Linked DNA regions of Homo sapiens. The protein of the gene in region 3 purifies or fractionates together with the protein of the main gene of each other region. This does not show direct contact. Each region holds a gene or a part of one and is shown on either strand. Other genes may lie near its edges.

Region 1 (4,173 bases), on a different chromosome or scaffold from region 3:
GGATTACAAGCACGTGCCACCACACCCAGCTAATTTTTGTATTTTAATAGAGAGAGAGTTTCTCCATGTTGGTCAGGCTGGTCTTGAACTCCCGACCTCAGGGGATCCGCCCTCCTCGGCCTCCCAAAGTGCTGGGATTACAGGCATGAGCCACTGCGCCTGGCCGAAGATATTCTTAATTTAAAAAAAAAGATGTTCCTACAAAATTCAGTTTGGGGATAAATACTAACCATATGTAAAGAGTACTGGGGAACTGTTGATGTTTAGATTGGAGAGGACTAGAAAATGACAGAGCTTGTTTAGAAGATTACAGATTTCAAAGTGCAGAAATTACTTTGTGAATTACCAAATGTGAGCTAAGCTGTGTTATGTTAGTTTAGAATATAGCTCATCAGACTTTATGCTGTTCAAATAGCTGGTTCTTTCTCGTTTAAGTTTAGGCTTAAATACCACCACCCTGTAAGGGTTTGAGAAAACTTTGCTGACCATTCTAAGTAGGTTCCCTCTATCAGTGTACCCTGTTGATGTCCCTCACGGCATCTATCACAATTTTTAATAATCTTATTTGTTGGTTTAATTATTTGTTTGCCTCCCCCACTATATTATAAAGTCCATCAAGACAGAGACTGAACCCTATTTTCTTCACTAATCAATACCTTATTTCCTAGTTCAGGGCCTGGCACATAGTAGGTACCAAGTAAATGCTTGTTGGATTAATGAATGCAATTATTTCAGCAAAATCAGTGTATACTATGAACTTGTATGTATGTTGAGTGTACAAAGATAAATGAAAGTCAGTGCTTGCCCTCCATTAACTTACCTGCAGGCTTTCAGCTGAAGGAGTTCCATACTTTTTAGCTTTCATCAGCAGATCTCCAGCTTTATTTTCTAAATACATAAAAATTATAAAATCCCCAAATAGGACCAACACAGCATTTTAGAACTTCTCATTTGATTAAGAATCAAATATATACATGGGGATTGTATATTTTCTTTCTTTTTTTTTTCTGGAGACAGATTGTCGCCCAGCCTGGAGTGCAGTGGTGTGATCCCAGCTCACTGCAACCTCTGCTTCCTGGGTCCAAGTGATTCTCAACCTCTCAAGTAGCTGGGACTACAGGTGCGCACCACCACGCCCAGCTAATTTTTTGTATTTTTAGTAGAGATGGGGTTTCGCCACGTTGCCCATGCTGGTCTCGAACTCCTGAGCTCAGACAATCCACCGCCTCGGCTTCCCAAAGTGCTAGGATTACAGGCGTGAGCCACTGCACCCGGCCTGTATGTTTTCACTAAATGGGCTGACTGCATGATAGCCAGGGACATGAGCTTTTTCTTTCATTTTTAAGTAGGATATTCATTGATTAGATCGTCTATTACTTATATTAATAAAACAATAAGTAGGTGTATTAGTCTTTGGCTTAGTACAAGTCATTCATGGAACCTAGTAACTTTGAATCTTAGGAACTATAAAATGGAATAACAATATTTTACCCATAATATTTTACATTTTTAATCTCTTTTATCCAGACCACAAAGTAATTGAACTTAATTTTTTGCAGACAGTCATCTTCATTATTTATATAATACTTAAAAGACTAACTCTGGCTTTGCAAAATATGTCATTCAGATTTCTTGTAGACCTGGTGCGGTTGCAGTGAGCCAAGATTGCGCCACTGCACTCCAGTCTGGGCAACAGAGCAACACTCTTTCCAAAAAAAAAAAAAAAATTTCTTGTAGATCAGTTATTTGTAGGTTTTCTTTCATGGTAGACAGGATAGGTGGTACATTATCCACCATAAATATTTGGGCTAATTTATTTTTTCTTAGTGTTATATTTCATTAAGTTTCTAGTTTTGTTTGTTTTTTTGTTTTCCTAGAGGTAAGGACAGATTTAGGTGAAGAACAGAATTTGTCAGTTTGGAGTTACTTAAATGAAATTAGGCTACATGACACTTCCTTGCTTTACTACAAAGTGTACCAACCTTTCAGGAGTTGAGAAACTTGTTTCATTTTGATATACTTTCTCTGTTCCTGAAAGAATTGTGTGGCTTTTTAACGTATATATATATTTAAAATACACAATATTTTGTAATTTCATAATACCTCTTGATGTCGTAAATGCCTTAGAATTTTCCAGAATCGGCTGGGTGCGGTGGCTCACGCATTTAATCCAGCATTTTGGGAGGCTGAGGCGGGTGGATCATGAGGTCAGGAGTTTGAGACCAGGCTGGCCAAGATGGTGAAACCCCGTCTCTACTAAAAATACAAAAATTAGCCGGGCATGATGGCGCTCGCCTGTAATCCCAGCTACTCAGGAGGTTGAGGCAGGAGAATCACTTGAACCCAGGAGGCGGAGGTTGTAGTGAGCCAAGATCATGCCATTGCACTCCAGCCTGGTGACAGAGTGAGACTCTGTCTCAAAAAAAGAAAAAAAGAATTTTCCAGAATCACGCTTGGGACTGAGACACTTATTTTTTAGGTGACAACTGAATATTATTATTGCACCTTTTTTTTTTTCAAATGTTGGGTAAAGGGCAGTTTCAAATCTAGATAGTACTTATGCATATTCTTCTTTTTTTTTTTTTTTTTCCCCAAGATGGAGCCTTGCTCTGTCGCTCAGGCTGGAGTGCAGTGGTGCAATCTCGGCTCACTGCAACCTCTGCCTCCCAGTTTCAAGCGATTCTCCTGCCTCAGCCTCCCGAGTAGCTGGAATTACAGGCGCCTGCCACAACACCTGGCTAATTTTTGTATTTTTAGTAGAGACGGGGTTTCACCATGTTGGCTGGGCTGGTCTCGAACTCCTGACCTCGTGATCCGCCCACCTGGGCCTCCCAAAGTGCTGGGATTACAGGCGTGAGCCACCGTGTCTGGCTGCATATTATTATTCTTTCTATGCCTTCTGATAGCCCTTCTGTTGATTTATATGTAGCATACTTGTAATGGGAGAGCAGTTATAAAGTTGAATAAAAAATAATGCATAGGTGTATCTTAAGATAAATGTATATATTGTAAATGGTGATTTTATATAATTATACTTTGAAAATTAAGTCAAATATTGATGTTATTCCTTTCTAGATAGAAAAGGAAATCTAGATAATAATAGATTCTGTTCCAACTACTTTGATCACTTTTATTTTAAATATTTTTTCAATTACAATATAATGTTTAAAATTCAAATAATTCAAGTACCTATAAAATATGGTAGTTCTTAACATTTGTACTCCCCAGATAAAATCATTATTAATAAATTGGGATGTGTCCTTTCAGACTCTGTACACATTTAAACACTGTTGAGTTTGTGTGCATGTCTGTGTATGATAAAAATATTCATTAATGCTGCTGGTGACACTAAAGTTGTGTGACTATATACCGTTAAGGGGACTGAATTTCAGGCAAGAAACAGATATGCCTTTTTTATAAACCATTTTGACTATCAATAGGGTAGATAAACTTTTAAACGTGAGGATTACGTCAGGAAGGGTAGAGAGATGCCAACAATTCTTTCAGCAAATGAATACCTTTACCTTTGGAATTCTGTCTAGTTGAAACAGTCCTGTGTTCCTACTTTATATTTGGAACCATTTATTCAAATTATTAAAAAATTTTGAATTGTTTCTTTAAATTTTAAATTTAAATAAACAAGTACTTCATTTTATGGTCATAAATAGTTGAGTTCAGAGTTCGTTTTGGGTGTTTCTTTTGGGGCTTTAAAAATACATTTTGGCTGGGCATGGTGGCTTACACTTGTAATCCCAGTACTTTGGGAGGCCGAGATGGACAAATTGTCTGAGATCAGGAGTTTGAGACTAGCCTGGCCAACATGGAGAAACCCTATCTCTACTAGAAATACAAAATTAGCCGGGAGTGGTGGCGCACACCTGTAATCCCAGCTACTCGGGAGGCTGAGGCACGAGAATTGCTTGAACCCGGGAAGTGGAGGTTTCAGTGAACAGAGATTGCGCCACTGCACTTCAGGCTGGGGGACAGAGCAAGATTCTGTCTCAAAAATTAAATAGGCTGGGTGCAGTGGCTCAAGCCTGTAATCCCAGGCCTACTTTGGTAGGCCGAGGGGGCGGATCGCCTGAGGTCAGGAGTTCAAGACCAGCCTGGCCAACATGGTGAAACCCTGTATCTACTAAAAATACAAAAGTTAGTTGGGCATGGTGGTTTGTG
Region 2 (4,173 bases), on a different chromosome or scaffold from region 3:
AGCTACACGGGAGGCTGAGGCAGGAGAATTGCTTGAACCCGGGAGGCGGAGGTTGCAGTGAGTCGAGATCACGCCACTGCACTCCAGCCTGGGTGACAGAGCAAGATTCCAGCTGGGGGAGAAAAAAAAAGAATGAGAGGCTGCCTCGGATTTTAAAGTTAATTTGATAGAATCACTTATTAATTGTACTTCCAAAAGTAATGAAGCCTTCCAGAAAAATCCCTGACTTGCAAGGTGATTTCTACCCTTTGTTTATACACTCCATTTTCAAAGGCGTAGTATAATAATTGTTGTAATAATTATTACAAAACTGGGAGCTCTTAAGTGGGTTTGTAATGACAAGGTGTGGAGCAAATCCAGTCTCCCCTAATTAATGTGGTTTACAACTTTAAGTCAATAAACATTCAACGAGATGTCGTTTGCAGTAGCAAACATGCCCAATCTCAAGGTCACAGGGCTTGGCAGGTCTTTGGGAGGTAACCATTACTACAAACACAATTAGAGCCAAGTTCTTGGAGGTTTTTTACCATATAGACCAGGGCCTCTCAACTTCAGCCCTATTGATATTTGGGGCCAGATAGTTTGTTTTTAGGGAGCTGTCCTCTGTGTTATAGGATTTTAGCAGTATCCCTGGCCTCTACCCACTAGATGCTATTTAATAGTAGTGCCCCACCCCCAACCTGACACACAGAAATGTCTCCAGCCATTGCCAAATGTCTCTGGGGGAGGGAAGGAGGGCAGACTCATCCCAGATTGAGAACCACTGATATAGACTCAAGTATAACTTGACAAGACACAGAACAAGTTTAGCTTCAATTTCATGGTGACCAGTGTGTAAATATTTCTCACTGTTACTTCTAAACAAAGATAACACAAAAACACTGCAGTGATTACAGGGGTGGTGACACATGCTAGTAATCCCAGCCGCTTTGGGAGGCCGAGGCAGGTGGATCACTTGAGCTCAGAGGAGTTCAAGACCAGCCTGGCCAACATGGAGAAACTGCGTCTGTATAGAAATACAAAAATTAGCTGGGCATGGTGGCACACACCTGTGGTCCCAGCTACTCTGGAGGCTGAGGCAGGGGGATCACTTAAGCCCTGGAGACAGAGGTTGCAGTGAGCTGAGATCGTGCCACTGTCCTCCAGCCTGGGCACTAAAGTGAGACCCTGTCTCAAACACACACACACACACACACACACACGCACAATAAAACAAAATGAAAAAAAAAAACCATAAAAAAACTACAGTCTGGGTTGTCAGAGGCTCTGTGTCAAGAACCAGTTGTTTTCTCTGGCTGCTGTAACAAATTACTTCAAATTTCACAGCTTTAAACAACACAGATTTATTATCTTGTAGTTCTGTAGATAGAAGTCTGGGAAGTCTCACCGGGCTAAAATCAAAGTGTCAAGAGTGCTGCCTTTCTCCTGGAGGCTCTGGGGCAAGGGGGTCCATTTCCTTGCCTTTTCCAGCTTCCGGAGGCTGCCCACATTCCTGGCTGATGGTCCCTTCCTCCATTTTCTTTTCTTTTTTTTCTTTTGAGACAGAGTCTTGCTGTGGAGCCCAGGCTGGAGTGCAGTGGAGTGATCTCGGCTCACTGCAACCTCTCCCTCCCAGGTTCAAGAGATTCTCATGCCTCAGCTGGGGTTACAGGTGCCTGCCACCATGACCTGCTAATTTTTGTATTTTTAGTAGAGATGGGGGTTTTGCCATGTTGGCCAGGCTGGTCTCAAACTCGTGGCCTCAGGTGATTCTCCCACCTTAGCCTCCCAAAGTGCTGGGATTACAGGCATGAGCCACTGTGCCCGGCTCTTCCTCCATTTTCAAAGCCAAGGATGGCAGTTTGAGTCCTACACCGTTTGCATCACTCTAACCTTGCCTCTGCCCTCACACCCCCCATATGCAGTAGGCGGGTGGCAAATGAGGTATCCCCAAGTTCCCCAGGGAGCTTGTGTGTGTTCCCCTCTCAATTCCTGCTGTGTCCACCTCCAGCCACCACCTAGCTGCACCACAGTGCCCAGGGGGCTCCATGGCCCCATCTCCCTCTCCCGGTCTCTGGGTCCTGGCTGTCCTATGGTGCCAGAGGGGCTCCATGGCTCAGGCTTCCCCTCCCCATCTCTCTCTGGGTCCTGGCTGCCCACTATGTTCAAAGGTCTCCATGGCCCTATCTCTCCCTTTTCTGCCTCCCTCCTCCCCTCTAAGGGTCTTTGTGATTACCTTGAGCGCACCTGGATAACGCACCATTCTGTCCCTATTGTAAAGTCAGCTGATTAGCAGCCCCAATTCAACTTGCAACCTTAATTCCCCTTTGTCCTACAACCAAACATATTAACAGGTTCCCAGAATTAGGCCATGGATTCCCTAGGCGGTGGGGGAGACAGCAGCCTGCCTACCCCTCCAGCTCTCCTGAGAATCTCGGTTAAATGCCTTAAATGCCTTCTGATTTTTGTGTACAGTTTGAATTACGGTTTTAACTGAGGCTGATAAGGTTATTAGCAGCATAATGCACTTTTACTCCCTATATGAAAGGGCAACTAGCATAAGGTCCGCTATGCAGTAGGCGGGTGGTACATGAAGGCACGCCCAAGTTGCGCCAGGGGAGCTTATGTTTCTCTTTGATTTTTTGTTGTGTCCACCTGCAGCCTGCACCTGGCTGCTTCACGGTTCCCGGAGGGTCTCCATGGCTCGCTCTTGCCCTCCCCGTCTCTCTCTGCGTCCTGGTTGCCCACAGTGCCCTAGGGGTCTCCATGGCTCTCTCTCCCCCTCCCTGTCTCTGGATCCTGGCTGTCACACCATGTTTGGGGGTCTGTCTCCATGGCTTGCTCTCCCCGTCGCCGTCTCTCTCTGGGTCCTGGCGGCCCCACTGTGCCCTGGGTCTCCGTGGGTCTCTCCTCCCAGTCTCTCTCTGGGTCCTGGTGGACCCTTGGTTCCCCGGGGGGCTCCCTGGCCAGCAGCGCCCTCCGCGCCCCACCTCACCCGCTCCCTTCTCTCCCCACCAGGTCACAACGCCGACGACATGGCGGAGACCGTGCTCATGAACTTCCTACGGGGCGACGCGGGGCGGCTGGCCCGGGGCGGGGGCCTGGGCTCTCCCGGCGAGGGGGGCGCCCTGCCGCGCTGCCGCCCGCTGCAGTTCGCCTCGCAGAAGGAGGTGGTGCTGTACGCGCACTTCCGCCGCCTCGACTACTTCTCCGAGGAGTGCGTCTACGCGCCCGAGGCCTTCCGCGGCCACGCCCGGGACCTGCTCAAGCGCCTGGAGGCGGCGCGGCCGTCCGCGGTGCTGGACCTCGTGCACTCGGCCGAGCGCCTGGCGCTGGCCCCGGCCGCGCGGCCCCCGCGCCCCGGCGCCTGCTCCCGCTGTGGGGCGCTGGCCAGCCGCGCGCTCTGCCAGGCCTGCGCGCTCCTGGACGGCCTGAACCGCGGCCGGCCCCGCCTGGCCATCGGCAAGGGCCGCCGGGGTCTGGACGAGGAGGCGACGCCGGGGACGCCCGGGGATCCGGCCCGGCCCCCCGCCTCCAAGGCCGTCCCCACCTTCTAGCGACTTCGGGCCTCCCGCCGGGATCTGATGCCGCGGGGTGGGGGCTGCCTGTAAATGACACTGTGAATAAACCCGTTACCTTACCTGGCCTTCCATGTGGGGTTGGGAAGGAGACGGGGGCCCATTCACCTGAAACCCTGAAGAAGCTGGGACCCCAGACTTCGAGGTCTCAGGGAAGAAGGGTCTCGAACTGGGCTTCAGGCTCTGAGGGAGGAGGGGGCTGGGGGACCATCCTAGGTCTGAGAGAGGAGAGGGCCAGGACTAAGCCTAGAAGAAGTGGGACTGGGGACCCCAGGCATCTGTGGCTGAGGAAGGAGGGCCTGGGGTCGTGGACTCCTGGGTCTCAGGGAGGAGGGGGCTGAACACCGTGTGATTCTTGAGCGAGTGGGGATTGGTTGGGGACCTCCTGCCCAGGGCCTCTGCTGGTTCTGGGTGCGCTCAGCATGGTCCTGACCCTCCTTGAGCATCAGATTCCTGATGTTTCCTGTTTGCCCGCAGTGGGGTAAGCGGAGCGTGACTTGATGGACACACGCCATTCACAGCCGCCGTCACGATGCCTCCCTTCCAGCGCTTCGTGTGTAGCACGCACTGCACCCTCATTTCGTCTCCACCACGGTCTCACTGGCTGTAGCCTGAA
Region 3 (4,173 bases):
AGTCTTCTCATTTAATCACACCTGTGAAGAAATACGTAATAGTGTTGACACCTCATAGGTCTGTTCCCATGTCTTCAAAGGTAGTACCCATTGAATTAGGAAATATCTGTAGTCCGGTTCTTTCACTTTCTAAATAAGAAAATAGGGGCTCAGTGGACATTAGTGACTTGTGTTATGAGGTTATTAGTACTTAATGGTTGAACTAGGATTAGACTCCAAATTAATTACGGCTAACCGCCTTCCTACTCTTGCCCTACCACGTTAGAGCATTACTTGTATTTCACCGTTCTCTTTGTGTAAACTTTACTGTTAGCTGGCTTACAATATCTTAGAATTAAAATGTTTATCAAGCACTTTTACATACTGTGTCATTTTGGTTTCCATTTTCAATCATCTTTAAAGAGAAGGCAGATTTTTTTTTTTTATGTTTTGTGGATAAACATGAATCAGTCAATATGTGTTTCATCAGTGACAGATGAATTGCTTTAAGTTTATTTGGCTATTGAAGTGATAGAATGTCTTGGGATGTTTTTAAAAATTATCAATTCCGAAGCTGTTTCAAAGTAATTTGACGAATCTGTATCACTAACTAGAAAGAAATTTGTTAATTTTGTATTTTTACTGGTAATTTTAATACCAATAATATTGGGCTTTTATAATGTACTTGTTTGTTTGAATAGCACTTTAGAGAATTATATTGAAACAAAATATATTTATGTATTCTAGAACTTGATGTTTCTTATCTTTCCCTTTTGAAACTTAAGCATTTAGATCTGTGATATCATTAATCTGTGAATTGAATGTTCAAAAGTTTGGTAATCTCTGAAGTTTTATAAAATTCTGATTTTGTTTAATGTCTGTGTTTGGCCTAGTGTTGGTAACTGTCATAAGTGGTTGTGTGATTGTGTGGTTTAGAAGCAGTGGTATGGCCTGGCATGGTAGCTCACACCTGTAATCCTAGCACTGTGAGAGGTGGAGGCGGGAGGATCGTTTGAGGTCAGGAGTTCGAGACTAGCCTGGGCAACATAGTGAGACCCAGTCTGTACAATAATAAATCATGTATATAAAAAATAGGAGCAGTATTGTCTTTTGCTTACTATGTGCCCAACAAAGGAAGCCAGTCCAACTCTGTCACACTGGGAATTAAAGTAACTTGTTTGGCATACTTTCTACTTAATATAGAAAAGTCTTTTGACTTATTGGTTTAATCTTTTATTCTGCTTTATCTTTGGTCTAGCCCTTGTTTTTCCTGCTGACACCCTTAGCAATCCTACCATATTAGAAAGATTTTAAATATAAAAGGAAAAGGCCAGAAAACTCAGCTTTGGCAACACACCCTCATGGTCAGCTCAGAGAGGACTGGCATCCCCGGGTTATGTAGAGAGAGCACGTGTCATGCAGCCCTAGGGTGCAGCTGCTCCAGGAAGGAGGCAGGACCTCCTGCGGTCCCTCAGCTCAGTAAATGGCATGCATGCCCCTTTCCCAGCATGCTCCTTTCCCAAAGCTTTTCCTCCTTTTGGTTCCTGGGTGAGATTTTCTCTTTGGTTTGTTGGGGAAACTAAACCTAAAAGTAGTTGACAGGCTGGGCGCAGTGGCTCATGGCTGTAATTACAGCACTTCGGGAGGCTGAGGCGGGAGGATCCCTTGACCCCGGGAGTTCCAGGATGCAGTGAGCTATGACTGCCACTGCACTGCAGCCTGCCTGGGTGACAGAGACCCTGTCTCTTAAATTAAAAAAAAAATAGATATAGATTATATATATATATATATATCTAACAACCTTTCTAAGAATGGCAAAACCGAATTCATAGTCATAAGCACCCACAGAGCCTTTTCTTTCTCATCAACTCTGAGACCTTCTGGGGAAAGCTCCCTGCGGCTTGCAGGAAATTTATTTTTCTTTTGAATATTACAGTTTGGTCTGCTTCATGTCTGAGGCTCTTCCGATTCTGGCACAGTCCCATTGATCTGATGCAAAGTTCAGACCCATTTCTCTCCTGAGCTGTGGTTCTTGGTGAGTAATGTATGTGAAAAGGATTTGAAAATGAACGGCTATGTGCTTCTGCAGTGACATTATGGTGGCTCTGTACAGGTTTCCAGTCCTGTGATCACTTGTAAAATTTAGGGTTTTCTGGAGACCTATTGCAACAAAAGTTTGTTTAGCTCTCAGTCCTGGAGAGAAAATGAAAAAAAAGATTCCTAAGATTTTTAGATCCTTTGATGAGTCAGCTAAGAATGTAAGTGGCTTCCCCCCGACCCCCCCTTATTTTTTGAGAGAAGGCAGGTCTAGTGAGGATAGAATGAGACATAGGGCCTCAAATCCAGCCTAGGTCATCATGAGCGACTTTTCTGGGCTCTAGCTTCCTTATCTGTGAAGTGAGGTGGTTGGGCTACATGGACAGCAAATCCCCTTTAAGTCTAAGTTATGTAGCTCTATGCTATTTTTGTTTTGCCTCATGTGTATGTGTTGTGAGGAGGAGGACCTGTTTCTGTTTTTATAGCTTTATTGTGTCATTTAAAGTTTTGTTTTATGTTAATATTAAAGCATTTCCATTCCCCTGTCATACAGGACTTTATTGGGTATTCTGTTGTATAAATCCAGGCCTGTAGAGTTGTATCACAACAATCATTTATTTTATGCTGTTAATCTGGGTATGTTCCAAGGCCTAATTATTGATGAGCCTGTTTTGCCATTTAAATATAAAGTTTGACTCACAGATGATACTGATGAAACTACTTAAGGAGACTAATAGGATCTCTGTAGGAGGTCCAAGTTTCATAGTAACATAGACATTATTTTTTGAATATCTGAAACATACACTGTAGTTTAATGTCACATGGGCACTAAAGTCCGTGAGTACTATGTGGTGTGTGCAGAGCCTGCTTTTCATCCCCAGTTTACTTTTGTTGATTAATTTATGTGAATAACTGCATAGCCTCTTATTAGATTCTTTGCTTCCCTGTTAATGCTGAGAATACACTCCCGAGGCAGCAGTATCCACTAAGTGTTCCCTGGTAATGAGAGTCTGGCTGTGAAGCAAAGTGATTTCACAGTAATGTTCAGTTAATAATGTTTTGCTTTCTTTACAATATTTTCATAATCTTTTCTTCACTTGTGTTTCGAGTTTATAGTCTTCATAGCAGCTCCCGAATGATTGTCATAAGGATCTTGAATAGTGATTGTAGCCTGTGAAGTTTCTTAGTGCTCAGGGGTTCAGTTAGAAGCTCCAGTTTCTGAGTATCTTTTGAAATCCTGAGCACACTTAAAATAAAATTGACATTACCTGTTCCTTGTACTCTTATGGTGATGGAAAATAAGCTGGGCTTGAGTCTCTTTTAAGGGATCTAGACTTTGTTTTTATCTACTTACTATAAGGCGTTCCTAACAACTGCTCAGAAGATGAAATTTGTCCAGAAGGTCTTGATAGTTTAATGGTTCTCAGTGATTTTCCTTTTCTTTTTTTTTTCCTTTTTTCTTTTTTGTAATCACAACCTTGTTTGATTAAACCCTATTCTTACTGAGTTTTTCAAAAGCGATAATAACTATGTTCAGTTTCAGAAGATCAAAGACATATTTTATCCAGGCTTCTAAGGAAACTAAGCACTTGTAAATTTCAATTTAACACAGATTACTCATGTCAGTTTAAAGATATTTGTTTATTTTATATAACACAGTGGTTGCCACTATTAGTAGCAGTAGATGTTCTAATTCTGGAGAGGTTTTTGGAAGGTTTCAAATGATGAAACAAATCAACAAAATTCTTGTTAGACTAGTGTCTGTAGCATAGAGGGAAGTGTGGGGTGTTCAGATTTATCGTAGAACTTTCCCGAGGATTGTTATTATGAGTAATAGTAATGTGATAGGAGTAAAACCTAGCTCTGGTTAATTTTCTCTAGTGGATAAGTCCTCACTCTTTTACCTATACTGTTTTTACTTCTGCCTCTTCTTATAGTTTGCATTTTCTCCTGTGATGTCTCCTTCAATGTTCTTAAATTAGTTTTTGTTATATAATTTAGGATTGAAGTAAAATGCTCTTCCACATAGAAACTCTGGTTCCTTAGGATTTATATTTGGATGATATAGAGTAAGCATCCAGTTTTCAAAACCGCCTTATCCATTGTTTAAAGTGTTAATGAGTTCTTATGATATCAAAGTGGGACTTAAAATCTATT
Region 4 (4,173 bases), on a different chromosome or scaffold from region 3:
ACTTAGTCACTCTAGAATCATCTTTGACTCATTTTTGACTCATCTTTTTCCTTTATTCTCTTTGTTCAGTCTATTATATTTTTTTTTAGAATGTCTCATATTTTTTACTTTCCATTTTTCAATACTATAGACACTCATCATCTCATGCCTGGATTAATATAATAGCCTCTTAGCCAGTGTTCTTTTCTCAAGTTTTTATTCATTCTTTTTGCCAGACTAAGTTTACTAAGATACTGATTTAACTTCTATGTGCCTGACACACAGGAGGTACTTGGTATATGTAGAAGAAATGATAAATAATTCTCCTTTGCCTACCAAATCAAGTCCCAGGCTTCTTTAATTGGCTTTCCAGAGCTTTCATGATCTGGTCCATTCTACATGTTCAATATTGTTTGTTATTGCTTCTTAACAAGCATCTTCCATTCTATTTTAGCCAAAATTCTTTGTTGCCATTAGCATAATTCTTAGTTCTTTCTGCCTTTTGGTTTTGTTTTCCTCTACATCCCTTCCCATACTTGAAATGCTTTCTCTCAATGTACTTGTACTAAACAGGGTTGGACCAGGAAAGAGGTGGCACGGTGGAATGGTAATTGAGAAAAGATTAATGAACTACGTAAATGAAAGCTATTTACGTAGTTGTAGACAGAGGTAAGGGAAAACAACAAGGGATGGTGAAGCACCCCACAGATAAAAGTAGTGGGAGAATGATTAGCACACCTGTACCTGAAGAGATAAGGGAATGAAGCAGATGCTGGAATCTGGAAAGAGCTGTAGCTATAGCTGCAGAAGAAAGCCTAAGGCAGAAGCTGTGGGGTTTTTTTTTCTTTTTCTTTTTTTTTTTTAAAGAGACTAGGGTAGGGGGTGGGTTTTTATTTTTAAGAGATGGGGGCGGTGGGGGGTCACTGTGGCGCAATTATCGGTCACTGCAGCTTTGAACTCCTAGGCTCAAGTGATCCTCCAGCTTCAGCTTCCTGAGTAGCTAGGACCAGAGGCATACACCATCATGCCTGGCTTATCTTTTTATTTATTTAGAGACAGGGTCTTGCTTTGTTGCCCAGAATAGTTTTGAACTCTTGGCTTCAAGCAATCCTCCTGCCTTAGCCTCCCAAATCACTAGGATTAGCTGTGATCTTTGGTAAAGATATAGAGGTATTACCAATTTGTGGTTAGTAGGGAGGGAGCTGGTAAAATACCTCATTCTCTTTCTCTTTATAGCCTACTGATCTACTAGTACCTCCCACAGATTTAACCCAATCAGGAGCCAGAAGGCAGAGAGTTTGCTATACCCACAGATATCAGCCACATAGGGCACAGAGCAGTGTGGAGAAAGGGTGGGAAGTGAATCAGGAGTGATAAATGGAGGATATCCACTATACTACTCATTCTTCAAGGCCCAGCTCAAGGTCTACCCCCTTCATTCAAACTTTGGTTCATTCCTTCGATATATACTAATTGTTCTCTTTATGCCAGACATCAATTTGTCTGCCTGCTTTTCTAAGAATAGAGCCCTATCTCTTGACTCACGTGGTTACTTTAGCAGTCATTTTATGCAGTGTACATATCCAAAGGTGATATTTGAACTAAGACCAATGAGTCCTTTCTCCTGGATTTTGAATTTGGAGTTAGGATATACTTGGGTGAGTTTTTCCCTGGGTGGCTAAAGCTGTAACATGTAGAACTTTGAAGGTATTAGTAGCCCTGTTTTCTGCTGCTCCTCTTTCAGCTTCCTTTTGGGTTTCCTCCTATCTCAGTTGACTTTATTTCTCAGCCTTATATACTGGCTTCTTCTCTAATCTATGAATTTTTCTTAGGATTGAGTCATTTTCCATTTTCTATCCTCTAATAACTCTCTATGTGATAGTACCTGTTTTTACAGCTTAAATACGATTTTAAAACTACAAAAAATGTTTTTATTTTACGAAAAATAGAAAATACTAATCACATAATGAAGAAAATAAAAATTTCCTATAATCTTGCCACTCTAATAAATCAACTTACTTCTACAAGAGTCAAAAGTTTGTTGTTTATCCAGTTCTTAAGACCTTTAAAAAAATTAAGTAGTCAGGATTCTTAATTGCACACTGATTTAGTCAGCAAAGGAATTTATTGGAAGGGCATTGGTTATCTCGGACTTGAAAAATGATTACAAACAAGGGAGGCTATGCAGTATCCAAGACTATAGCATAAAACCAGCTTCCACTTTTGAATACTGTATATCACAGCTTATACCATCATTGCTGACCATAGTGGATGCTGCTGATGCTGCTGCTGCGGTATCACTCACCCATAGAAGCTTGAAGTTACTACACTTCCCTGACTATCTACCAACAGATGGATTTGCAGTAGTCCTTGTTTTTTTGTGATAACTAATCCAATATCCAAGACAGGTGCATGAGATTAGCAGAGCCTAGCCTCATGCTTATAAAGCTGGTACCTGGCATCTTTGCTTCTCTGGTAGGCAGCCGGCTCTTATAATGTAGAAAAACTGGCCGGGCGCGGTGGCTCACGCCTGTAATCCCAGCACTTTGGGAGGCCGAGGCGGGCGGATCAGAAGGTCAGGAGATCGAGACCATCCTGGCTAACATGGTGAAACCCCGTCTCTACTAAAAATACAAAAAAAATTAGCCGGGCGTGGTGGTGGGCGCCTGTAGTCCCAGCTGCTCGGGAGGCTGAGGCAGAAGAATGGCACAAACCCAGGAGGCGGAGCTTGCAGTGAGCCGAGATCGTGCCACTGCACTCCAGTCTGGGCGACAGAGCAAGACGCCGTCTCAAAAAAAAAAAGAAAAGAAAAGAAAAGAAAAACTGCCCACTGCCTACCTGAGAAGCAAAGATGCCAGGTACTAACTTTATAAGGGAGTTCAGATACTGTGTAGCCGAGACCGAAAATCAGATTCTTGAGTATTTAATATAGTCAATATACACAGAAGAACAGCACAATCAATTGCACACTAATTCAAAAGTTGGTATTTCAAGATTTTAATGTGTTTAATTGGTATCTGCTAAACTCAATGAACATGTGACTTCATAAATGAAGACTGCTTTTACATCCTTCAGTTCCACCCTCCACAACACTGCCAGAGTTATTTTTCTAAAATGCAAATTTTGTTATGTCATTCTTCTACTCAGAATCCTTCAGTGGTTAATTCCCCATTTTGTTTTATAGTATAACATTCAAACTCTGTAGCGTAACGTACAAGTCCTTCTCAATACTTGAATCCTGCCAAATTTCTAGACACAACTACCAATATTCTACTCTGTCCCCTGAAATAACACATTAGCTCCAGTCATATCTTATTAGTTCTGTTTCCCTGAAAAATATCGTTCTCTTTCATGTTTCTGTGGCTTTGTGCATGTAGAACCTTTTGCCTGGAATGCCTACCCCTTTGTTGTCTTCTTTGCAAATTGATCTTTAAAGATTCAGTTCAAATAGCACCTTCACATGTAATACCGTTTTGATACAGTTTATGTTTTTTATTCATTTTTCTAATATAGCACTCATTACATTGTATTGTAATTATTTCTTACATAATTTTTCCTATTAGAGGCTAATAAATTTGGGAATTGAGATTTCCTTGTTATCTTTTTATCTCAGAAGGTATTTGTTTAATAAATAATGGAAACACTGTACTTCTGGTTAGTTAGTTGATTTTGTTAGTACACTCCTTTTAAGATTAAAAGTCATGCAGTCAATCTCTTTATGATTGATTAACTTTGCCTGATCCACAACCGCAGATTATGTTCCCACCTTGGCTAATCTTGCAAGGGAACTTGCAAGGGAATTATAACAAATTATAATTATAGGCTTAAGGATGAACTTTGAAACTGTCAGGAAAGTACCTTGTTTTAGTGAAATATGTGTACTGAATTTTCTGTTTGATATGTTTCTTATTAAGGAACTAAAAAAAGCAGCCTCAGACTTGATAAAGTCCAAAGTCACATGTCAATATAAGATGGGAGAAGAAAACATCAATCTAACAATTAAAGAACAAAAATTTCAAGAACTTCAAGAAAGACTCAACATGGTATTTTATTAAATGTATTTGTTTATAACATTAATATTTTCAATAAAACTTATGAGAATTTCAGAATTGTAACACAAAAATACTCCGCCTTTGCAAAGTCAATATGCATAGTTAAAGGTATTATTAATCTGTTTTTTTATTAATTTTTGCC
Region 5 (3,181 bases), on a different chromosome or scaffold from region 3:
GCGAGAGCCAAGCCAGCAACCATAGTTTGACCTTCCCTAACCTCCTTTCTCCAACACTAGAAGTACTGAGATAAAGCCAAACTTTGCTCTCCCCCCATCTCACAAGGTCATCAAAGCTGTTCCTGGGGCTCTGTGCTATGGAAGCTTGCTGTGTGCTTACATCAGCCCCTGCCCCGGCCAGCAGTAAATATGGTGCTGACTAGCTTTCACCTTGCCTCTGGCCTTACCTCTGCCATGCCCCTGCTTTCTCTTCCCCTCCAGGGTCAAAAGCGGCTGGTGCTTTCCGAAAGCTGCTCCCGGGACTCCATGAGCAGTCAGCCTAGTTGTACCGGGCTCAACTATTCATATGGTGTCAATGCTTGGAAGTGCTGGGTGCAGTCAAAATATGCCAATGGAGAAACCAGCAAGGGTGATGAGCTGCGCTTTGGCCGTAAGTACTTGGGGATGGGGGGTGTGGGGAGGCAGGGACAGGGAGGAGGAGGGGAAAGGGGAGAAGGGGCTGGGCCTGTGATTCAGCTGAAGATGTCTAGAAGTGATAAGGGTGTGATCCCTTAAGGATGCCCTGTGAAGATGGGGAGGAGTTGTAGATTAAAGGGAAATGCTGTCTAGGTTCCAGGTTAGGGGCTCTTTCTGTAATTGTTCAGGAGCTAGGCATGACTAAGGGATGGAGGGGTTAATGGTGATGGAGCTAAGTGAAATTCTCCATGTAGAGTTTTTCTTAATCCTGTCCCTGCACAACATATCACTGCAGCCAAACCCATGCGTATCAAAGAGGATATTCTCGCCTGCTCAGCTGCTGAGCTCAACTACGGTCTGGCCCAGTTTGTGAGAGAAATCACTCGGCCCAATGGTGAACGATATGAACCTGACAGTATCTACTATTTGTGTCTTGGCATCCAGCAGGTACCTCTTGTGCACCACCTCACTTCCTGTCACTCTTAACACAGCAGGCAGGGTCTAAACAGAAATGATTCTGGGTTAGGCACGGTGGCTCACGCCTGTAATCCCAACACTTTGGGAGGCTGAGGCAGGAGGATCGCTTCAAGCCAGGAGTTTGAGACCAGCCTGGGCAACAAAGTGATACCCATCTACCCAAAAAATATTTTTTTAATGAAAAAAAAAAGCAGTTATTCTGTTGCACTCCCTGTTCCTCATCTTGTCCCCTACCTGAAGCAGGCAGCTTGCCTTTAATCTCCTACTCCAAATAGAACATGAGATATCAATACTCTTCTAAAATCAAAACTGCATTCCAGGACCGTTGGCCAAGGAGCAGTCTTCATTGCTATCCAGGTCCCCTTTGTAATCTTTAAGCCCATTCTAGGAGGGGAGGGATGGGTGGAGCTGGGATCCTTGAGTGCTGGGGTAATGTTTAGTTCCCCCTGGGAGAAGTCAACCATGTATTACCTGAGAAGGAGGTGTGGGCTTCTAAAGAACATCTCCTCCAAGCCTCCTCCTCTTCGAGCAAAGCCTGAGTAGCGCAGAGCTGTGGGTATACCTGGGGGAAAGCACTCGAGGCCACCTAATCAAGCAACTGTTTCCCATCGTCTCCTAATGATCAAGGACACCATACCTGGGGGCTTCAGCATCATTATCTTTCTTCTAGGACCTACAGTCTAGCCTTAGGTGTGTCTGTTTTTCTTTCCCCAGTACTTGCTGGAAAATAACCGGATGGTGAACATTTTCACGGACCTTTACTACCTGACTTTTGTTCAAGAACTCAACAAGTCTCTGAGTACCTGGCAGCCCACACTCCTCCCCAACAGTAAGGAACAGGGACGTAGCAACCCCTACCCGCTTTCTCCATTCTTCCAATCCACCATCCCGAGAGTCCTGTGCTGTTTGGTCTGCCACTCTTCACAAAGGGCCCGAGGGCAGGAGCGTGTAGCTGGATGCCTCAGGGTTTAGAGTTAAAGGAGCACAGGAGCGCCTGTTCTTGAACGTGAGATGGGGATCAAGACTTAGGTCTGAAGAGCTATCTCTAGGACCAGAAAAAGATGGCCTGGGTTTGGGTGGTAAGTAAAGAAAGAAAGCAAGAAATCGTGGGACTCCTCAAGGTTTACATTTACTTGTCTACAACTTGAGGGTGGTGAGAGGCGTTCCAAATGCAGGTGTGGAAAGTATATATTTTTTAAAGCCCAGTCCCACTGTGTAGTGTAGCAAGTGTAGCGAAGTGACAGTGTTTTATATACAAAGGTTACTCACCAAATGAGAATTGTGTGGGAAATGAGCAGGGCACATGGGATGGGAAGTGGTTGGGTTTGGGTAGCCACTCCCTCCTGACTGGCCTCTCCCCCTTGACCATTGTAGATACGGTGTTCTCTCGAGTGGAGGAGGAGCACCTCTGGGAGTGTAAGCAACTGGGGGTCTACTCGCCCTTTGTCCTCCTCAACACCCTCATGTTCTTCAACACTAAGTTTTTTGGGCTGCAGACAGCTGAGGAACACATGCAACTCTCCTTCACCAATGTGGTGCGGCAGTCCCGCAAGTGTACCACCCCTCGGGGCACCACCAAGGTGGTGAGCATCCGCTACTATGCCCCAGTCCGCCAGAGGAAAGGGCGAGGTACGAGGCTGCCCCCTCCCCTGTGCTTTTGCCCCTTCTCTGCCTTCCCCTTCCATGCCCTGCCATAACCCACCATACCTGCCAGGTCGGCCCTCTCCTTGGCGCCTAGCTTCCCTCTCCTGTTCCTGTGTGCAGAAAGGGTAGAAACAGCCAGTCCTCCTACCTGATAGGCAGTAGCTGTTGCATAAATAAGAGGTCACCCTCTGGCCTGTTTCCCCTCTTTCCTCATTTAAGACAGTTTACTTGCTTGCCTGCTTTTTCTGGGTGGTGGACAGGTAGGAAACCATTGGGTGTGTTTGGCTGTCGGGGAGGGTAGAATGACAGGCTTTCTGTGATTCTTTGCTATCGGGTCTAACAACAACTGCACCTTGGTTTCCATTTTTTCTGTCCCTGGACTTCTGTCCTGTCTGAGTGAAGTTTCCAAGGTCCTTTCTCTGGACCCATGCTTCTACCTGGACTAATGCACAAGGGGTTGGGGTCATTGCTGTTTCTCTATCCCAGAAGGCAAGCCCACCCTTGCAGTAGGGTCTGTTTTATCAGGTCTTTTGAATAACTTCTGAGATCACCTCTTCAAGATAGCAACTTGGGGGAGATTTTAAAGAGAGTCTTTGGCAGTGGG
Region 6 (4,173 bases), on a different chromosome or scaffold from region 3:
TTACATTTGGTGAGATTAATAGGGCTTGGAACATTGGTAAAATAGAACCAAGAAAGGAATGAAATCTCAAAAGTAACATTTTAATCAGAAGCTAAAGAATTCTTATTGATGTGCAGGTATTTGCTGTTTGTTACAATAACTTCCTTTGATAAAGGAAAAAAGCCTGCTTGGACTGTTTAGGTTAGTTTGGTATTGCATTATCATTCAAATAAGTACTTCCATTTCTGCCTCAAAATCCATAACTTGAACTTTTCATTATGTACCCTAACCCCTGGATGGCCTGAATTAATCACATTTGGCTAATTGAGACTTCATTTTTTTCTTCTAGAAGCCTCCAAGTACGAGCTAGGTGGTCTTCTGGAGGGCTAGCCCAGTATTTCTACAAAAAAAGGATAACTTACTCAGAGCTGCCAGCTGAATTGGGCTTCTCCATTTTCTCTGCTTGTTATAGCCCATACATTCTAAGAAGTAGTGACAGTTTTGCCTGGCTTGTTTGCTGTAAAAGGCTTTCATCATTAGACAATGGTAGCGTCATCCAGACATGGTCTACAGGAAACAAACAAAAAACAACAACAGAGAAACTGCAGCATCTGCAGCTCTGCGGTGCTGCCCCCATCAGCTTGAGCCTTTAGAGCCACAGAGGACCTGCTGATGGGAGTGGAAGAGGAGGTCAGACAACAGAGAGCTGGTTCCCTACTCCTTGGGACCTAAGGCTAAGGTGGAGCTCAAGTCTTACCTGCAGATCCTAACGGCCTGATGCCACAAGGGTGTCTCTGACTGTTCTAACAATCTTAGCAGTGCTGACCAAGGTGAAAAGCCTCCCTTTCTACAGTGAGATTTAGCCATTGTTTTCTTGCCCTCTCATCTCATCCCCACCTTTCACTGCAGTAATGGGAGGCTGTTCTCCTTCTTCTGCTACAGAGATTAGTGGTAGGGCCATTTTTCTTTTCAAACTTGGCACCCTCTATGAAACATAGGAAGGCCCCATTAAAGTCCCATCTTCTCTGCCCCAGATAGCTGATAGCCTATTTAAGGAGAGAAAGCTTCTTACACTTTTGAAAGGGTAAAAAATGATTCACGGTGACACAGTAAGTACACAATAGTGGATGAGAGAGTCTGAATCAGGCAAGAGAAGAGATTAGGAAGAGCTAAGGCTATTGTCTTCAAAAGCCAAATGCAACTCCCCTCTGCATAAAAAGCTGATGGGGTTTCCATTTCTGACATAGGGCAATGCTGGTGCCTACATAGCCACTTCGGCACCATTAGAGTCCTAGTTCTGTTAAAGATGTCCAAAGACATTCTTGGAGGGTACTCAGGGTCTCAGACCTCTACTGTGGTCAGTCTTGGAAAGTTGAAGCTTTCCTTGAAAGACCTTGCTGAATGATCAAGATCACCGCAGGTTAATGCTCTCCAGGGAGACAAGCCAAGTCTTCTCTTTTTTCTCCATTATGAGATTGGAGTACAGCCTAATTAAATAGCAGGAAGGGGCTGGCCCCTTGGAGACTGGAGGTGACAGTGGCTGCATATAAATCCATAGCTTGATAGATCCATTTCTAAAATTAGCTACATTTGATCTTTTTTAAGCTCTTCCACCTGGTTTTTGTTTCATTTTGTTTTGTTTGCCCCTCCCTATCTTACTGTATTACTGTCACCTGGGCTACCATGATAGCATCTTTATAGAAAAAAATTTAAACTAGTGGATCCTAAACCCAGTGACACTCTAAGGTCAATTGGGGGCTTAAAAAAATTATCAGGCCCACTCCCAAAGATATGGATTCAGCAGTTCACAGGTAGGGCCCGGGAATATGCATTTTTCAATAAAAGTGCTGCATCCTGTTGGTCCTCAGACTGACTTTGGAGTACATTGATCTAAACCACTTCTTCCAGTAAAGTAGTTTACGGAGATACGTATAATACAGGATTTTCGAGTGTGGTGGAGGAAAGAAAAAGATGGGGACAAAGGAAAGGTAGGAGTGAGAATAAAGCACGCATGGTGAACCACAAATAAAAATCCTCCGTCCCCACTCAAGTTGATTATGCAGAGCAGTAATTCTAAATAGCCTCTTTCAATCAGACTGTGGGGCACTCACTACTGCCTCCCTGACCCAGGGCCCCCAAACGTGCTGAAATCCACAGCTCTGTCGTTCTTCTTCACCACTGCAGATGTTAGTGTGGCCATTCATTTCTCTTACTCCACCCGGCATCCTTCCAGCCACGGGCTGCGATGCTCAGACGAGCTAAGACGATGCTCAGCGTTTGTCTTAGCTCCTCCAGGAGAGACCCCAGCTGGAGCTGGGCGTGCCGCTCTCCGGTTCCCTCAGGCTAAGCCGGCAGCAGCTGCGTGGTTGGGGGAGGGGACAGACTGCAGCGCTCTGCTCAGATCTCGAGCTGGAGGCCATCTTTGGCAGGGCTTCTGAAGGGCAATGCAAGACACAGCCTGATGTGGGGAGGAGAGCACAAACAAAGAGACCAGACATTGAAGAGCAATCAATGGTCAGAACACAGCACACTTCCTTCTGAAAGGAGCAAAGTTGTGCTTTTCTCTACAGTGATCTGTAAAATAGATATATGAAATCTGCAACATAGAAGTTCAAGGAAATCTCATCTGTCTAGAACTCAGCTCCCCAACCACCTCTTATTCAGAAAACACAGCTGTGAAACAAAAATAATGTTTTAAGCAAGGACCTAATTAACCTGCTGATGAGACATATCATCTATCTCTAAGCCAAACATTAGGAACTTGGCACCTCTACTGCCCCCAGCCTATTCATTCTTAACACGATTTCAAAATGCTTTTTTATTTGGTTTCAAGACTGCAGCAAGATGGAGAATGGGGACCACTGGAGTCAGGCATTGTTAAGAATGAGCAGCAGCAGATCCGTTCATCTTTCAGAACAAAGAAAATCAATGAGCATCAACACTAATCCAAACACCGCACTTTGGGGCCATTTAGGGTAGAATTAAACAGCCTGATATACCTCGAATGACCTAAAAGATGTCACCGAATTATTTTTAAAATTGATTATTATCATGACCCTTAATTGCTGTGGAAGGTGGCATTATGTTTAGTGTCCTGATTGTGAGTGGTATAAGCCACTTTAGAAAGGCTTTTTATTCAAAATTGTTATTAAAAAAAAAAATCTGGTGCTTTAAGGTATATGCCTCCAACTATCCAATATTAAAGTGTTGTTATATGTTACTTTTCGTAGTTATCTAAGGGGTTGGTAATAGTGAGGGCTTGTGATTAATTTGTCTATATCATCAAAAGGATAGAGGGCCATGTGGTATGATATTATCAAGAATAAAAATCACTAACATTTATTGAGTTCTTCCTGTGTGCCATGCTGTTCTGATGCCTACTAATTTAACAGATAATGGACTCATCATATATTAATGTATATGTGAGATATATTAAATTGAAATCCTAATTTGAGGATCTCAGAACACCTTAGAAAAAGAGTAAACATAACTTTCCGTATGCAGAAGTAGAAGATTGGAAGGAACTAAAATGTAGAAAACTGGCTGAGGTCCAATGGATGTTAGTGGCAGAGCAAAAACTGCAACCCAAGTTCCTGATGAAATCCTCCTCTTATCTTCATATAGCATTCCTCCTCCTTCTTTGCATAATCATATTTTCTTCTTTCTCCTTTTTCCCTCACTCTAGACTCTTTTCCCTCTTACCACAGTAATATTGATTCTCTTGTCAGTAGCTAGAGGGTCTATGTCAGTGATTCTATGTCAGTAGCAGAATTGATTATAACCTCAAATAGGAACTATCAGGTAAAATTTCTTGGTAAAAATCTCTTTAAGGCCTCATGATCTCTTAACACACTTTGAAATATATGCATCACGGTCCAGTATAATACGTATTTTTCCTACTGACTGTCATTCCTTGTTCTGTACCCATCAGTCAATTGAGACTCCTCTTTGCAGTATTCCTGTCAATATTTATAGAACAGGTAGGTGGTATGAATTTTAATTCTGCAAATTCTCTTGATTTGGAAGTTTGTACCCCCTGATGTCTCAGCCCTACCTTTCACCATTGCTTTATCATTCTCACACAAGGGGAGTTTCAAGGGCCTGTCAACACTTACTTTCTTGAGGTTTCTGATATGTTTATCTGCATCACTGTTTCTTTTTTTTTTTTTTTTTTTGAGATGGAGTTTTGCTCTT
Region 7 (4,173 bases), on a different chromosome or scaffold from region 3:
TGGACAGAGACGTATGTGCGTTGGTCTCCTAAGGGCACCTACCTGGCTACCTTTCATCAAAGAGGCATTGCTCTATGGGGGGGAGAGAAATTCAAGCAAATTCAGAGATTCAGCCACCAAGGGGTTCAGCTTATTGACTTCTCACCTTGTGAAAGGTAAGCTGCTAGAAAAACACAGGGGAGTCTATGCATTTCACCCCATGCCAGCCTTCTACAGGTGATCTTTCATTTTGTAGCATTTCAAACTTAGTAGAAAAATACGGGAGTATGCAGAACGCTAATAAGCTTTTTACTGAGATCTTCTCACATTTGGTTGCATTTACGTCATCATCTCCTATACAGATATTTTTTCCTGAGCCATTTGGGAGTGAGTTGAAATAACATGTCCCTTTAGCCCTGAATGTGTATTCCTAGAAATAGGATTTTGTTAGTGTGACCATAGTGTGGGTACTGACTTCAGGGATTTACCATTCATTTAATACTTCAATGTATTGCCATATTCTGATTTTGTTACTTGACCTAATAATGTTCTGTATAATACTTACTTTCCTTCAGTTCAGGATCTAGTCTAAGGTCACGTATTTTACAGATAATAAATTGTCCTTCCTCTATCACCCAGGCTTGGCGCCACCCAGTGGCACCATTGCAGGCTCATTGCAACCCCAGCCTCCCAGGTCAAGCGGTTCTCCCACCTCAGCCTTCCTGAGTAGCGGGGACCGCAGGCACACGCCATGACATATGGCTAATTTTATTTTTTGTAGAGATGGGGGTCTCACTTTGTTGTACAAGGTAGTCTTGAACCCCTGGGCTCAAGTGATCTCCTGCCTTGACCTCCCAGAGTGCTGGGATTACAGGCGTGAGCCACCGCACCTGGCCGAGCCGTGATTTTTGATCTAGCTAATCCGGCTGTCGGAGGCCTGCTAGGGAAAGGGGCGGTTGTGGGAGGCAGTGTGAGGCGAGCTGGGGCCACTCTAGGGAAAGGGACAGTTGTGGAAGGCAGTGTGAGGCGAACGGGGGCCACTCTAGGGAAAGGGGCAGTTGTGGAAGGCAGTGCGAGGCGAGCTGGGGCCGCTCTGTTTTCGCCCTCATGGGTTGTGTCTGCCTTCCCCTCTGGTGTTGTAAGGGACCGTCTGTTACACACTTTGTGTGAACTGAGTAAGCAGGTGCAGTAGCTCCAGACAAGCCAGCAGTCAGGTAAATCATGGCTGGGAGGAGCCCCCAGGCTCTGAAGTTTCTATCAGACCTGTGCTGGCTTTCGAACTGGATGGGACTTGTTTTTTTGTTTGTTTGTTTGTTTGTTTGTTTTGTTTTTTTTTTTTTTGAAACTGAGTTTCATGCGTCGCCCAGACTGGAATGTAGTGGCACGATACCAGTTCACTGCAACCTCCACCTCCCGGGTTCAAGCTATTCTCCTGCCTCAGCCTCCTGAGTAGCTGGGATTACAAGTGCCTGCCACCACGCCCGGCTAATTTTTGTATTTTTAGTAGAGACAGGGTCTCACCATGTCGGCCATGGTTGGCCAAGCTTGTCTTAAACTCCGGACCTTGGGTGATCCACCCACCTCGGCCTCCCAAAGTGCTGGGATTACAGGTGTGAGCCACTGCGCCCAGCCGTATTTTTTTAACTTGTTAGTCTTTATTAAACATGGGTAAAGATAGAGTTCCACACTGCGCCACCCTCTGGATCACTTAGCAGCCTTGTGTGGGATCGGTGAGATCTTCTGTGCTGATCTTGGAGAAACCGGAGCGCCTGCAGCGTATTGACACCAGAATGAACAAGCGCCGCTGCTTCCCGCTTCCGCTTGGGTCTCTTGGGGCCGGGCAGTGTGGGGTTTGGGGAGAGAGCTGGTTCCGCGAGTTCTGACGGCGTGTTCTGGCCGCACAGACAGACTGTGATCCTCTCGTGAGAGGAGGATAGTGTACAGTGTTGCCCTTCTCTTCTAGGTACCTGGTGACCTTTAGCCCCCTGATGGACACGCAGGATGACCCTCAGGCCATAATCATCTGGGACATCCTTACGGGGCACAAGAAGAGGGGTTTTCACTGTGAGAGCTCAGCCCATTGGCCTATTTTTAAGTAAGTGGACCATTGTAACGAGCTCTGTAGCCTTTGTCTTTTCATGGGAATACCCTGGCACTTTTGTTTTTCTTAGGTGGAGCCATGATGGCAAATTCTTTGCCAGAATGACCCTGGATACGCTTAGCATCTATGAAACTCCTGTAAGTGGCCTCAGTGATGGCAAACGCCCCGTCCGGTCCTTGCTTGTAACCGGGGTGTGGTGCCTTTCCTTATTTGTGCTAGAAGAGGAGGAGGAGGTTTCACAGATGCATAGGAAAGGCCTGTCTCCTGTGCCTTTTTAACTGCCCCTGCTCTGGGCAGAGCTCTTCAGTCACTCCTGCCCACCTGGCGCAGCCGTGGGAAGTCCTGGATGGGAGTTAATGCAGTGGGCTTCAGAACTGCAGTTCTGGGTGGCGGGTGGGTGGATGGGTTCACTGTCACGCTCTGTGTGCACTGCCCCCTAGGCAAACTCACATCAGACTCTTGTTTCCTTTTGTAAAAAGTTAGGTGTGTTTCTGAGACACTGACATGATTTGACTCAACTGCAGCCTTCCTTTTTTTTGGGCAGTCTATGGGTCTTTTGGACAAGAAGAGTTTGAAGATCTCTGGGATAAAGTGAGTATTCTTATCAGTTTGGTGTCTTAGTGTGTTCAGGCTGCTTAACACAATACCAAAAAAAAAAAAAAAAACACAATACCATAGGCTGGGTGGCTTATGACAGCTGAGATTTCTTTCTCCCAGTTCTGGAGCTTGGGAGCTTGAGGTCAGGGTGCCTGCAGACTGTCTGGTGACGGCCCACCTCCCTCCTAGTGGACAGCCCCTCGGTCCAGCCTTCCCTGGAGGAAGGCCTCCGTGGCCTGTTCTGTAAAGTCTCTCATCTCATTCCCAAGGGCTTCCCCCTCAGGACCTCCCACCCCCCAAAAGGCCCCACCCCATGCCGTCACCCCAGGGGGTTAGAATTTCACCCTGTGAATCTGGGGGACACAGACGTGGTCCATTGCAGTTGGTTTCCTTTATTTGCTGTCTCTCCTTTAGCACTCAGCTTTTTGTTGTTGTTGTTAGAGACAGAGTCTCGCTCCGTCAGGCTGGAGTGCAGTGATACGATCTTGGCTCGCTGCAACCTCCACCTCCTGGGTTCAAGTGATTCTTCTGCCTCAACCTCCCGAGTAGCTGGGACTACAGGCATGTGCCACCAAGCCCGGCTAATTTTTGTATTTTTAGTAGGGATGGGGTTTCACCATGTTGGCTGGGCTGGTCTCAAACTCCTGACCTTGTGATCTGCCCGCCTCAGCCTCCCAAAGTGCTGAGATTACAGGCGTGAGCCACCATGCCCAGCCTGTCACTCAGTTCTTAACCAGTTGGAGAGAAAACGGTGAGTTTGTTCTTTTTTTAAAATTTTTTTTTTTTTTTTTTTTTTTTTTTTTTTTTTGAGGCAGAGTCTTACTCTGTCTTGCAGGCTGGTGTAGAGTGGCGAGATCTTGGCTCACTGCAATTTCCACCTCCTGGGTTCAAGTGATTCTCCTTGCCTTAGACTCCCAAGTAGCTGGGACTGCAGGTGCCTGCCACCATGCCTAGCTAATTTTTGTATTTTTAGTAGAGATGGGGTTTCACTGTGTTGGCCATGCTGGTCTCAGAACTCCTGACCTCAAGTGATCTGCCCACCTCAGCCTCCCAAAGTGCTGGGATTACTGGCGTGAGCCACCACACCCAGCCATTTTTAAATCTTTTTTGAGACAGAGTCTTACTCTGTTGCCCAGGCTGGAGTACAGTGGCGTGATCTCGGCTGACTGCAGCCTTCACCTCCCAGGTTCAAACGATTCTGGTGCTTCAGTCTCCTGAGTAGCTGGAATTACAGGCGCGCAACCACTACGCCCAGCTAATTTTTTGTATATTTTAGAAGAGTCGGGGTTTCACCATGTTGGCCAGGCTGGTCTCGAACTCCTGACCTCAAGTGATCCGCCTGCCCGCCTCAGCCTCTCAAAGTGCAGGGATTACAGGTGTGAGCCACCGCGCCCGGCCTAAGGTGAGTTTGTTCTGGACACAAGGATGGAGGCTTGAGTCAGTGGGCAGCAAGGCTGCTCAGCATTGGGCCCGCCACCCTTGAGGCACCACTTCAG

Evidence for each region.
Region 1: the proteins of GAN (region 3) and VCPIP1 purify together in Homo sapiens (co-immunoprecipitation; 3 studies listed by BioGRID and IntAct, with this or other methods). This does not show direct contact.
Region 2: the proteins of GAN (region 3) and CTU1 purify together in Homo sapiens (affinity purification with mass spectrometry; 2 studies listed by BioGRID and IntAct, with this or other methods). This does not show direct contact.
Region 4: the proteins of GAN (region 3) and CCDC73 purify together in Homo sapiens (affinity purification with mass spectrometry, with the first as the bait; one study listed by BioGRID). This does not show direct contact.
Region 5: the proteins of GAN (region 3) and ZMYM3 purify together in Homo sapiens (affinity purification with mass spectrometry; 2 studies listed by BioGRID and IntAct, with this or other methods). This does not show direct contact.
Region 6: the proteins of GAN (region 3) and INA purify together in Homo sapiens (affinity purification with mass spectrometry; 3 studies listed by BioGRID and IntAct, with this or other methods). This does not show direct contact.
Region 7: the proteins of GAN (region 3) and EIF3B purify together in Homo sapiens (affinity purification with mass spectrometry, with the first as the bait; one study listed by BioGRID). This does not show direct contact.

Annotation. Positions count from the first base shown.
Region 1 is NC_000008.11:66,656,754-66,660,926, reverse strand, and holds part of VCPIP1 (deubiquitinating protein VCPIP1), read left to right. Parts: intron 1-4,173. UniProt on the Homo sapiens protein: Deubiquitinating enzyme involved in DNA repair and reassembly of the Golgi apparatus and the endoplasmic reticulum following mitosis. Necessary for VCP-mediated reassembly of Golgi stacks after mitosis.
Region 2 is NC_000019.10:51,097,964-51,102,136, reverse strand, and holds part of CTU1 (cytoplasmic tRNA 2-thiolation protein 1), read left to right. Parts: intron 1-2,997; coding exon 2,998-3,536; 3' UTR 3,537-4,173.
Region 3 is NC_000016.10:81,317,454-81,321,626, forward strand, and holds part of GAN (gigaxonin), read left to right. Parts: intron 1-4,173. UniProt on the Homo sapiens protein: Probable cytoskeletal component that directly or indirectly plays an important role in neurofilament architecture.
Region 4 is NC_000011.10:32,654,693-32,658,865, reverse strand, and holds part of CCDC73 (coiled-coil domain-containing protein 73), read left to right. Parts: intron 1-3,893; coding exon 3,894-4,022; intron 4,023-4,173.
Region 5 is NC_000023.11:71,241,551-71,244,731, reverse strand, and holds part of ZMYM3 (zinc finger MYM-type protein 3), read left to right. Parts: intron 1-261; coding exon 262-430; intron 431-751; coding exon 752-903; intron 904-1,647; coding exon 1,648-1,762; intron 1,763-2,307; coding exon 2,308-2,562; intron 2,563-3,181. UniProt on the Homo sapiens protein: Plays a role in the regulation of cell morphology and cytoskeletal organization.
Region 6 is NC_000010.11:103,279,614-103,283,786, forward strand, and holds part of INA (alpha-internexin), read left to right. Parts: intron 1-4,173. UniProt on the Homo sapiens protein: Class-IV neuronal intermediate filament that is able to self-assemble. It is involved in the morphogenesis of neurons.
Region 7 is NC_000007.14:2,364,375-2,368,547, forward strand, and holds part of EIF3B (eukaryotic translation initiation factor 3 subunit B), read left to right. Parts: coding exon 1-155; intron 156-1,942; coding exon 1,943-2,074; intron 2,075-2,150; coding exon 2,151-2,217; intron 2,218-2,559; coding exon of another isoform or gene 2,560-2,583; exon of another isoform or gene 2,584-2,598; intron 2,599-2,624; coding exon 2,625-2,671; intron 2,672-4,173.